Regions from separate parts of the Homo sapiens genome. Here region 2 is linked to region 1. The links come from fine-mapping of genetic effects on gene expression. Tissue or cell type: whole blood. Region 1 holds a variant in brackets; the other region holds the start of a gene. All regions are shown on one strand. Distances are between the middles of the regions. Region 1 overlaps GSN (gelsolin). Region 2 holds the start of GSN (gelsolin).

Region 1 (5,370 bases):
TTCCGGAGCCAGCCCCACCTAGTGCTGGGACCCAGGGCTGGACATCTGGAGGGGCCTGGCCCTGCTACTTCCTGACCCCATGTCCTGGAAGCAGCCAGATTTGGCCATGGGTATGAGCTCTGGGCCCTTCTTGCTAGGACCCACTTCAGCAGTCTGTCTCCCCTTCTCTCGGGGAGGAAATGGCCCTGAGAGGTGTGGTGGGTCAGTAGCCAGGGCTGCAAATAACTGTCCTAGCCCCTTCAGCACCCCACCACCCACCCCTGGGAAGCCCAGGCACAAACGCAAATCCACAACAAGACAGGGAGGCCTGGCTGCAGATGCTGGGACCGTGGAACCAGCAGAAGACTTTGGAGAGTCACAGGCTCTGCAGAGCTGCAGGGGAAGGCAGGGTCTACAATGCCCCAACCCAAGCCAGAATGAGCAGGAGAAGCCACAGGAGGCAGCTTCCTGCTCTGCAGAGGAAGGACTTTCCAAGAGGGAGAAAAACAGAGAGCAACCTTCTGTTATGTGATCGTGGAAAGAGCTCCCACCAGAAATGCCTGCATTTAAGTCCCCGGTCTATCACTTATTAGCAGTGTGGCTTTGAGCAAGTTGTTTTGGCTCTCTGAGCCTCCGTTTCCTCATCTATAAAACGGGGATTATAATACTTTTTTCCTAGGGTAGTTGTGTGAATTTAATAAGGTAAAGAACATTTGGGGCTTAGCACAGTGCTTGGTACAGAATAAGCACATATAAAGGAGGCTGCTTTTATTGTTAAAAGAGAGACTTGGATAAGTTTCTATCTCTCTGAGCCTCAATTTCCTTACATGTAAGATAGGGTTAAAAATGCCTTTCTTTTTTTTTTTTTTTTTTGAGATGGGGTCTCGCTCTGTCACCCAGGCTGGAGTGCAGCGGCGTGATCTCGGCTCACTGCCACCTCCGCCTCCCAGGTTCAAGTGATTTCTGGCTAATTTTTGTATTTTTAGTAGAGACGGGGTTTTACCACGTTGGCCAGGCTGGTCTCGAACTCCTAACCTCAAGTGATCTGCCCTCCTCGGCCTCCCAGAGTGCTAGGATTACAGGTGTGAACCACCGCGCCCGGCCTATTAAATGGCAAATTTTATGATGTGTGTATGTTTCCACAGTTTAAAAAAAAAAAAATGGAAAGACAAATGCTGGTTTCCTTCCCCTTTTCCAGAGAGATAATGAGCTGCCCAGTGGTGATGAGGTTGAGGGGACATAGGTGACAGGAAAATCGGCCCATGTCCAAGAACCCTTCAGGCCCTGGGACTCAAGGATGCTAAAAGACACACAGCAAAAAGCAAACAAGTTTGTGCATCTGGCCAGGGTCCCCTCCTGCCTGCCTAGGGATCAGATTCATCCTTCACTGGGATCTACCAGGAATGCTGGAAGCTTCCCCAGGCCAACCACCTTCCCGATGGGGACAATGAATGATGCAGCACATCAGATGATGGTGCCACATCCCTCCTGCTGCTGGCTTCAAACAAAGCCCTTCTGTGTCCCCAAGCCTCCCATACCAACTATGGCCAAGATTTCCTCCTTGCTGGGCTCTGGCAGGAAGTGTGAGCCCATTGTCTGGATGTGGAAAATCGGGGTCAAAGTGCCTTTCTTGAAGGCTAGTTGAGACGATTAAATGAGACCATAAATGTGAGGGATCCGTGGACCATGCCCCGCAAAGGCACTCTGCAGGGAGAACTCCCTGAGAAAGACAAAAGGGGGCAGGTGCGGGGAAGAGGGAAAAGACAATGGGATCCAGGAGTGCCTGCGGAGTCTCTGTGGGCTGGAGATACCAAAAATGACCAACAGGGTGAGGACAAGTGACCTTCCAACCTAAGGAATATGAGGCAATGTACAGGGATGAATCTGGACAGAGCCCAAATCCCTACCACCAGGGAACTTGAGCCAGTGGCACCTTCTGCGGCACTTCAATTTCCTCCTCTGTAAAATGAGGTGAAGATGCCAACCTGGTGGGGTGTCTGGTAGGACTGAAGGAGCCCTGGCACTGTGTTTGGCACACAGCAGGTGCTCAGTAAGCATAACATCCAAAGATGACCTACAGCATGTGTCCAGACCCTATACACACATACAGCTCACTGGCCCCTATACCTGCCCTATACCTACCTCATACCTAGCCCTCTACCTCTGTGTCTTTGCATACAAAGCAAGGGAGACAGGGAGGGTTCCAAACAAGGCTGGTACCAGGGATGGGGATGCATCTCAGGAGAGGGCCTCAAGCCAACACCTACAGAGCCAGCCTTGCTACCCAATCCCCTCCATGAGACTCCTAATGACACCCCCTCCCCTCCTCTCTGACTTTGCCTGTTCTGCCTCACCCAAAAGAACAAGGGCTCTTGGCTGGGCATGGTGGTTCATGCCTGTAATCCCAGCACTTTGGGAGCCCAAGGCAGGAGGATAGCTTAAACCCAGTAGTTTGAGAACAGCCTGGGAAACAGAGTGAGACCCTGTCTCTACACAAAATTAAAAAATTAGCCAGGCGTGATGACATGCACCAGTAGTTCTAGCTACTGGGGAGGCTGAGGTGGGAGGATCACTTGAGCCTGGGAAGTCGAGGCTACAGTAAGTTATGATTGTGCCACTGCACTCCAGCCTGGGTGACAGAGTGAAACCCTGACTCAAAAAAGCAAAAAACCAAAAACAAAAAAGTGAGGGCTCTGGATCCCAGTCCTAGCACTTACAACTGAGTGATGCTGAGCAAGGGACACAACCTCTCTGAGCTTCAGTGTCCACAGGGATAGAATGGCCATATTATCTCACGGACTCACCAGAACTTGATACAAGTACAAATCAGTTAGAGAAAAAGTCCAATGGGGGCCAGGTGCAGTGGCTCACACCTGTAATTCCAGCACTTTGGGAGACGGAGGCAGGTGGATCACTTGAGGCCAGGAGTTCGAGACCAGCCTGGCTAACATGGTGAAACCCCATCTCTACTAAAAATACAAAAAATTAGCCGGGCATGGTGGTGGGCATCTGTGGTCCCAGCTACTCAGGAGGCTGAGACAGGAGAATGGCTTGAACCCACGAGATGGAGGTTGCGGTGAGCCGAGATCGCGCCACTGCACTCCAGCCTGGGTGACAGAGCAAGACTCCAACTCAAAAAAAAAAAAAAAAAAAAGTCCAGTGGGGAGACATATCAGAGAATAGTTGTCCCTCCCTATCCACGCGGGATCAGTTGGTTCCAGGACCTCCCTCAGATACCAAAATCTGCAGATGCTGTACACCAATATATAAAATGGCATAGTACAGTATTTGCATACAACCTACATATATTCTCCCATGTATTAAACTTTAAATCTCTCTAGATTACTTAT[A/G]AAACCTAATACAATGTAAATGCTATTTACATAGTTGTTATACTGTAGTTGTTACATAAAAATGTAAATGTAAATTTCTATGTAACAATAAACTATGTAAATAGTTGTTACACTGCACTGTTTTTAAAATTTGTATTATTTTTACTTTTTTTAATTTTTATTTTTTTTTAATATTTCTGATCTGTGGTTGGTTGAATCCACGAATGAGGATATGGAGGGTGCAAGGTAGCAGATACGTGGAATGAACAAGTGTAGAGAGCTTGTGCCTGTAATCCCAGCACTTTGGGAGGCTGAGGAGGGAGGATCACTTGAGCCCCAGAGTTCAAGACCAACCTGGACAATGTCGTGAGACCCTGTCTCTCTCTATATTAAAAATAACAAAAATAAAAATTTAAAAATAAAAAAGAGCACTAATGTGCAACATGAGGACTATAGGGAATAAGTTGTACTGTATTTTGGGATTCATGCTAAATGAGCAGATTTTATTAGTGCAGTGCAAAAGTATTGCAGTTTTCGTCATTGAAAGTAATGGCAAAAATTGCAATTACTTTTGTGCCAGCTGAGATGATGAATATGTTCATTTGCTGCACTATAGTAACCTTTTTACTATCTAAATGTATTCATAACATCGCGTTATATACCTTAAGTATATACAATAACTTGTATTTTTTAAAAGAGAAAAACTCCACATAGCATGATTAGAGATTCTTCACAATTTATCTAAAACTTTTGACTACAATAGAACCATCAGAGATTCAAAGATATTTTTATTGCTACTCATCCTTTTAACTCTAATAGGTTTTATTTAAAATACTTTCCCCTCCTTTAACCCAAACAGAGGTATAGTACTGGAATGCTTTTCTTCCTTCCCCAGCTTAGAGGATAATCATAGCCAGCCGGAAGATTTAAACAAGATCCAGCACCTAAAATACAGTCCCTGGCACGAAGCTGGGCTCCCGTGTGGGTGCTGCCTTCTGTCCCCGGGTGTGCTTTAGGCCTCACCTCCATCCAGGCACCTGCCCAATCACCAGCACTATCCTTCAAGTGCCTGTCCATGTGGGAGTTTCTAGAACCCTCTGGGATACCCTTGGAGGCAGGACCCAACCACGGTCATCCCACCAAGACAGTACATAAAGGCTGAGACCAGAGCAGAGACCAAGCTCATCTCCTCTCCACTTTATACCCACTTCTCACCCCCACACTCCAGCCACTGTCCTGGTTTGGTGTCCCCATCTTTTCCCTGGGATCATAACATCAGCTCCCTCACTCCCTTAAACTCTCTCTGCACTGGGCCTGTCACTCATACAGATTGCATCATCCCTTCTGCAGACCTCGGTGCAGACAGAAAGAAGTCAGGACTCCTGAGTTCGGTCCTCTGTGATATGGGGCCCACAAGCCCTTGCAGTCTCATTGCCCACTAACCCCCCAACAACATCCCCTGTGCCATCACCTCTATACAACCTCACCTGCCTGCCTCCGGGAGACCAAGGTCTAGCCTTGGCTCTGCCTCCCTGTGTGACCTTAGGCAAGTTCTTTGCCTCTCTGGGCCTGTCTCCTCACCGGGCTACTGGGGCTTTATGCAAATGAGACAAGATGAGGTAGTGAGTGCCAGGTGCCAAGAGGCTCAAGAAATGTTAGCCTGCAATCCACGGCCTCCTCTTCCGCACATCCAACCCCTCCTACAGCAGCTGTTAGCAATCTACTTCCTCAACCTTAACAGCAGCAGGTTCTCTCTCTCCTAAGCTCTGGAATGCAGACGTGCTCACAGCCAGCACCAGCAGGCAGGGAGGGGAGCGGAGGGAGGACAGCTTAGAGGAAAATTACCCGGCTTTCACCCCAGCCAACACTGGTGCTCACAGCTATCTCAGAGAGAGGGGATCTGGGGGCCTGGCAAACCCTTCCTGAGCCGTGGGCTTGGCCCCAAGCTTTGACCCTTGTCTGAGCTGATGGGATGGCGGGGGGTTACTCTGGCCACCACTCCGCTGGGCCCCTCCCACTCTTTGGCATCCAAAGAGACAGGGAGGAGGAGGGAGAAAAAAAG
Region 2 (5,370 bases), 23 kb after region 1:
GTCATCCAGGCTGGAGTGCAGTGGCGTGATTTCAGCTTACTGTAACCTCCGTCTCCAGGGTTTAAGCAATTCTCATACCTCAGCCTCCCAAGTAGCTAGGATTACAGGAGCATCCCAGCACGTATTTTCAGTAGAGACAGGGTTTCACCATGTTGACCAGGCTGGTCTCAAACTCCTGGCTTAAGCCATCAACCCAACTCGGCCTCCCAAAATGCTGGAACTGCAGGTGTGAGCCACCATGCCCAGTTAAAAGATAGCTTTTTATTATTATCATGCAAACCAACATCTCTCCATTTTACACATGAGGAACCAGAGGCTCAGAGAGATAGGATTTGCCCAAGGTCACCCAAAGAACCAAGACTGGGGGTCCATTTCCAAGTCAGTGCTTCTAACTTCTCTCACACCTGTGGTCTCTGATAAGCAAATATACACACCCAGAGGCCGCAGACACAGGATGTAAAAGTTTTCTTAAAGAAAACCAGAGCTCAGTGTCTCAGCAACGTACCATAGACCAAGCAGAAATCATCTCTATGACCCACATCACAAATGACCCAAACTATTCACATGGAGTAGGGGAAAGTGACCCACTGTCACTGGATGGCTAAAAGTGAAGGCATCCAATCAACGTGTTTGGCAGGAGTGCACACACCATTGTTAACAGTGGCGACCTCTGGGGAAAGAGGCGGGCTTGGAGGGATTCTTTAACAATTTTTGTTTGTTTTAAAACTCATGAAAAAGAAAAAAAAGTTACAATGCTGAATACCTTAGCAACCTTCTCCAGTAGGTCTAGCCTGTTGTCTGCTTTTAGATGAAATTTATAGCAGGTTCTGAGACCTTCAGCTGGGCTTCCAGAATCTGCTGCTCTGACCCATCCCAGTGGCCACTGCTCTAGTTCAGACCTGCAATCTACTTCACTTGAATCATGCAACAGCCTCCTCAGGGCCTTCCTGCCTCCAGATCAGCCTCGTTCAATGCATCCCCTACATCAGCCATTCAGAATAACGAGTTTTTAAAAATCACTGCTCTGTCAAAACCCTTTCTCAGCTCTTCATTGCCTTCAGGATGAGGTCCAAACCCTTAGCTTATAATCTAGTTCCATTTTCATTTAGATTCTCAACCTCCCACCACCCCGCCCTTCTCCCATCCTCCACTCTAGCCACATGGATGGCTCAGAAAATCTCAGTGCCTTTGCACTAGTGGTTCCTGCTTCCCAGAATGTCTTTTCCCCCAACTCCTGTTTCTCCTGGTAAATGATTATTCATTCTGAGGTCTGGCTCACCTAGACAAAATTAGTCACTCCTCTTGCAGGCTGAAGTCACTCTTAATATGGCACAAAAGTGTCAAACAGTATAGATGGCAAGCATCTTGAGGACAGAGAGCTCTGTCCTCTTCCAAGGCTCTTTGGCCCCTCGCAGGGCAAGGCACAGAACACAGGCCCAGAGAAGTGCTGAAAGGAGGGAGGCGGGGAGGAAGGAAATGCCATGCGGGGCAAACCCTGCAGCCACCCCTCCTGGGAGCAGCCTGTTTCCAGGCTCATGTTAGTCCCTAATAAAAGGACTGTGGAAAATTCTGGAGTAAACTTTCCTCCCCTGATTCACACAGAAACCTTCTTTGCTGCTGTGTAACTCACCGAGTGCCAACCCAAGCTCCCCTGGCTGTTTACAATTTCCCTGGCATTTATAAATAGCATGGCCCCAGAAAGAAAAATGGAGTTTCAAAGGAGCTGAAAGCCGACCGTTCCCACCCCCATCCTTCCTCCTCTGTTTCCAAGCCTCTCCCCCTTAACAGCCCCAAGAAACACCAACCAGCACCCCCAAGTGTGTATGTACAGGGAATGCTTGTCCCTTTAGTAAACGGAACACCCAAGAAGGAGGCTAGAGTCCCTCCCAGCAAGGAGTCCGCAAACGGCAGACCGGAATTGGGTCTCAGCCCTACCCTGCCTCACTGTGTGACAATTAGCCCATCATAAACTCTCTGGGTCCTTGACTTTTCTCAACTGTGAAATGGAGGAAATGGAGATGGGGTAAGATTCTAGCAAGCTATGGTCGCTGTAAACGGCAGAGCGGTGAGAGGTCCTGGTGCCCTGGTCAGAAATGTGGTCCTGGGAGAACAGGACACACAGGATTAAGTGTTTGAAAAGTCCCCAGATGCCAAACAAAAGCGAAAGGCACCTCCCCAGAGGCCCCGCCTTCCACAAAGTCCAATTACCCTCAGGACAGCCCAGAATGAGTTCTGGGTGTTTTAAAGCTCCCTTCCATGCTCTGAGGAGGGTGTGAAGACAGGATAAAGCGACAGATGTCTGGGCAGACAAGGAGCTAGGAAGAAAGCCAATGTCTCCTGCTCACCCACACCCCCAGCCCCCAGCCTTCCAAGGACTGGGGCTTCCCCCTGGGCACTGCCCAGACCAGCCAGCCTGCACTGGACCAGAGGGAAGTTGCTGTTATTTAGGTTCTGGGGGGCTGGACCCCAGAAGACATGGGGGCTCAGGGAGAAGGGGTTCCAATCACTGTCTTCAACTCCAGAAGAAGCTTCCGTGTGAGTCAGGGAAGGGAACACTGCAGGGCCGGGGAGAAGCCAGCACCTACAGGTAGCAGGCGCCTGAAGATTTCAGACAGTGTAAGGAAGAACTTTCTAACAGTCCCCAGAAAGAGGAAGCAGCTGGAGAGGAGAGCAGGCACAGGTATCGTCCAGGAGGCAAGGGTCCTCTGAGTGGACTCCCCAGCAGAGTCACCGCCCAGACCGTAGCTGGTGGTCCCCTGCATGCCCGGGTCAGACAACCCAAGTGCAGGGGTGACCCCGGGCCAGTTCCCCCATCCCGGGGGCGGGGTCGAGGTTATTAGCTCAGGTGCTAGCAGCACAGTGGAATCACGGGGTGGAGGCCTGGCCCCTCTCCTCTCCTGCTCCGGCGTCTCCCCATCCCCCAACTCCCATCCACACTCTTTGGTCCCTTGGAAGACGGGAAAAGTGAGCGAGGAAGCCCTTTTCCAGCGATGCCCCCGCGGCCGGGCCGAGCTCCAGGCGCGGGCGAGATAGGACCGGGAAGGAAGGGAGAGGAAGGACTCAAATCAGCCCGGGACCCCCAGATGCCCGGGGCCGGGGCCGCGCGCCTCCCCTACCTGCTGCTGCGGCACTGGAGACAGCGGCTGCTGGGTCCAGCTGCGCTCAGCTGGTTCCGGGCGGCGGGGCGGGGGCGTTGTGGTGCGCGCGGCCGGGGTGGGCAGGGCGCGGGCGGGAGCCGCCCTCGGGGCGGGGCGGCCGGGCAGGCGGGTGGGGGAGGAGCGCCAGGCCCTCCCGTCGGCTGCTGGGCGGGTGGCTCCAAGCTCGCCTTCGTCCAGGGGGACCCCTCGCTTCACCTCGCAGGAAGGCACCAAACCAAGCCCTCTGCTTTCCCCTGGAGGAAACTGAGGCCCGGAGCACGGAGGGGAGATCTGAAGAGGCCTAGGGTCGGGGAGGAGACCCAGGGCAGCTCCTGAGCTGGGCTGGGGCCAAAGAGCTCAGATGGGACGGGCAAGCGAGCAATGCTCAACTAGCACCAGCGGAGGCAGATTTCAGCCCTGGAGAGAACGGACTTCAGGAGGCAAAGCCCTCGAAGAGTGACATAGGCTGCATGCAAAGCAGGGGAGATTCCCTCCCACGGAAGGGAATAAGGAGGAAGAGCGATTCCCAGCTCATTCCGAATGAAGTAACGAAAATGCCAAGTGCATCCCTGGTCCTTAAAGTGGACCATTAAGCAGGCGCCTCGGAGTCAGAAGGCCTGGTTTGGAACCCCAGACATCGACTAGTCCTGTAACTTTGGGCAAGCGAGCTCACATGTCTAAGTCTCCGTTTCCTCGTTTGTCAAATGGGCATCCTGAATTGCCGCTTCATGGGGCGGTTGAGAAGACTCAGTGAGAAAAAGACTCTCAGCACAATGACAGGGACCGTGGCTTCTGCATAAACGGAAGGGATGTTCTTATTAGTGTCATGGCAGATACTGTTTTAGGAGATTGAGGAAATCCACATTGGGTAGAAAGATGAGTGCAAGGTCAATTTTAAGCAAATGTAATACTTTGTTGATTTCAACAACATCTCATATGCATTTGAGACGATAGCCGTTTATAATGCAGCAAGGCATAAGACGGCCTCCCAGCAGTCCTGGTGCACACATGAGTTCCCAGGACTTTTGGAGTTGCCGCGTGACTCCGGTTTGGAAGGATTCACACACTCCACAGGAGACTGCACCACATGACAGAGATGTCCATTCCCAGCCTGGGTGCTGGCAGCAGCCCCATGTTCAGCCAGGGTAAAGCTCCCTCTTAACACAAGGTAAAATGTACTAGAGTCAGTAATTGCCGGGTGCTGGGGATCAGAGCAGAAAAGGCTGTTGTTTAAGTAGCACAGAAGCCAAGAGCACAGTGCTCACTCCCTGGTTTTTCCATTGAATAGCAGCCAGGGAAGCCACAGGACCCAGGGAATCTCACCCTGGCTCTTCCTCCTGCCATTCTCTCTTTGTTCAACACCAGTAAATACAAGAACCATTTCTTGAATGCCTCATGCCATGCTCTGGGCTTCCCACGTATTACCGACTTTAATTCTCACCTCCCTACCTGGCCTCCTAAGGGAGGCATTACCATGTGTATTTTTCAGATGAGCAGGCCAAGCCCACAGAAAGGGTTAAGTACTCTCTGGAGGTCACACTACTGATACTGTGCAGTCTACTCTTCTATGCCTGAGTCCTTGGCCCTCGCTTCTTTGCTCAATGTCTTATGTCACACTCTGCCACCTTTCCTGGCTTGGGAAATTCTGCCCAGTTCCACTTTCTCTGAGAATACAAGCAAGGTATCCACCCCGCAGGGAGGCTCACACCATCTCTGCTACTCTCTGCTTTCTCCAGAGGCTGCCTGGGGCCCAATGCAAGGCTGCTGGGGAGAAAAGCAAAAACACAGGCTTATTTGGCTCTGGAATCTTTGATTACAAGCCCCGGCATACACATGCCTTGGAATTATCTAACATATCATTTCCAGCCCCAGCAACTGCTCTCAGACAAAGGGAGGTGGAACTCTGAATCTGTGTCCCCATAGAACTGGAGAATACCACATCACGATGGAGGAAACATTGGAGAATGTCTGCTCCAACTCCTCCCTTTAGAGATGGAGAAACTGAGGCCAGGAGAGCAAAAGGGTTCACATTCTAAGCTAGATCTAAGGTTCCATATTCTAAGCTGGGTCAGATGCCTACCCATAACCCTGTAATTGCTCCATTTGGTGGCTGGAGAGGAACATGGGAACAGGGTATCACCAGGAATCATTAGAAATGATAATGAAGATAATGATGATGATGATTGATTGATGATGATTGTGATGATGATAACCAATACTTACATGGGAGTGC

Evidence for each region. PIP is the estimated chance that this variant, and not a neighbour inherited with it, causes the effect. A credible set is the group of variants that fine-mapping cannot tell apart.
Region 2: it holds the start of GSN, and the variant in region 1 is the best candidate, but not a certain one, in a credible set for the expression of GSN in whole blood (INTERVAL, PIP 0.66).

Annotation. Positions count from the first base shown.
Region 1 is chr9:121,289,180-121,294,549 of GRCh38, reverse strand. All of the region lies in intron 2 of GSN (gelsolin), which reads right to left. Among named protein-coding and RNA genes, the nearest start is that of GSN-AS1, 6.3 kb to the right of the region's middle. RefSeq lists an enhancer at 1-161. The variant A/G (reference allele first, on the strand shown) is at 3,330.
Region 2 is chr9:121,265,966-121,271,335 of GRCh38, reverse strand. It overlaps GSN (gelsolin), which reads right to left and starts at 3,174. Exons shown (of 18, transcript NM_198252.3): 1 at 3,117-3,174. RefSeq lists a silencer at 2,987-3,286.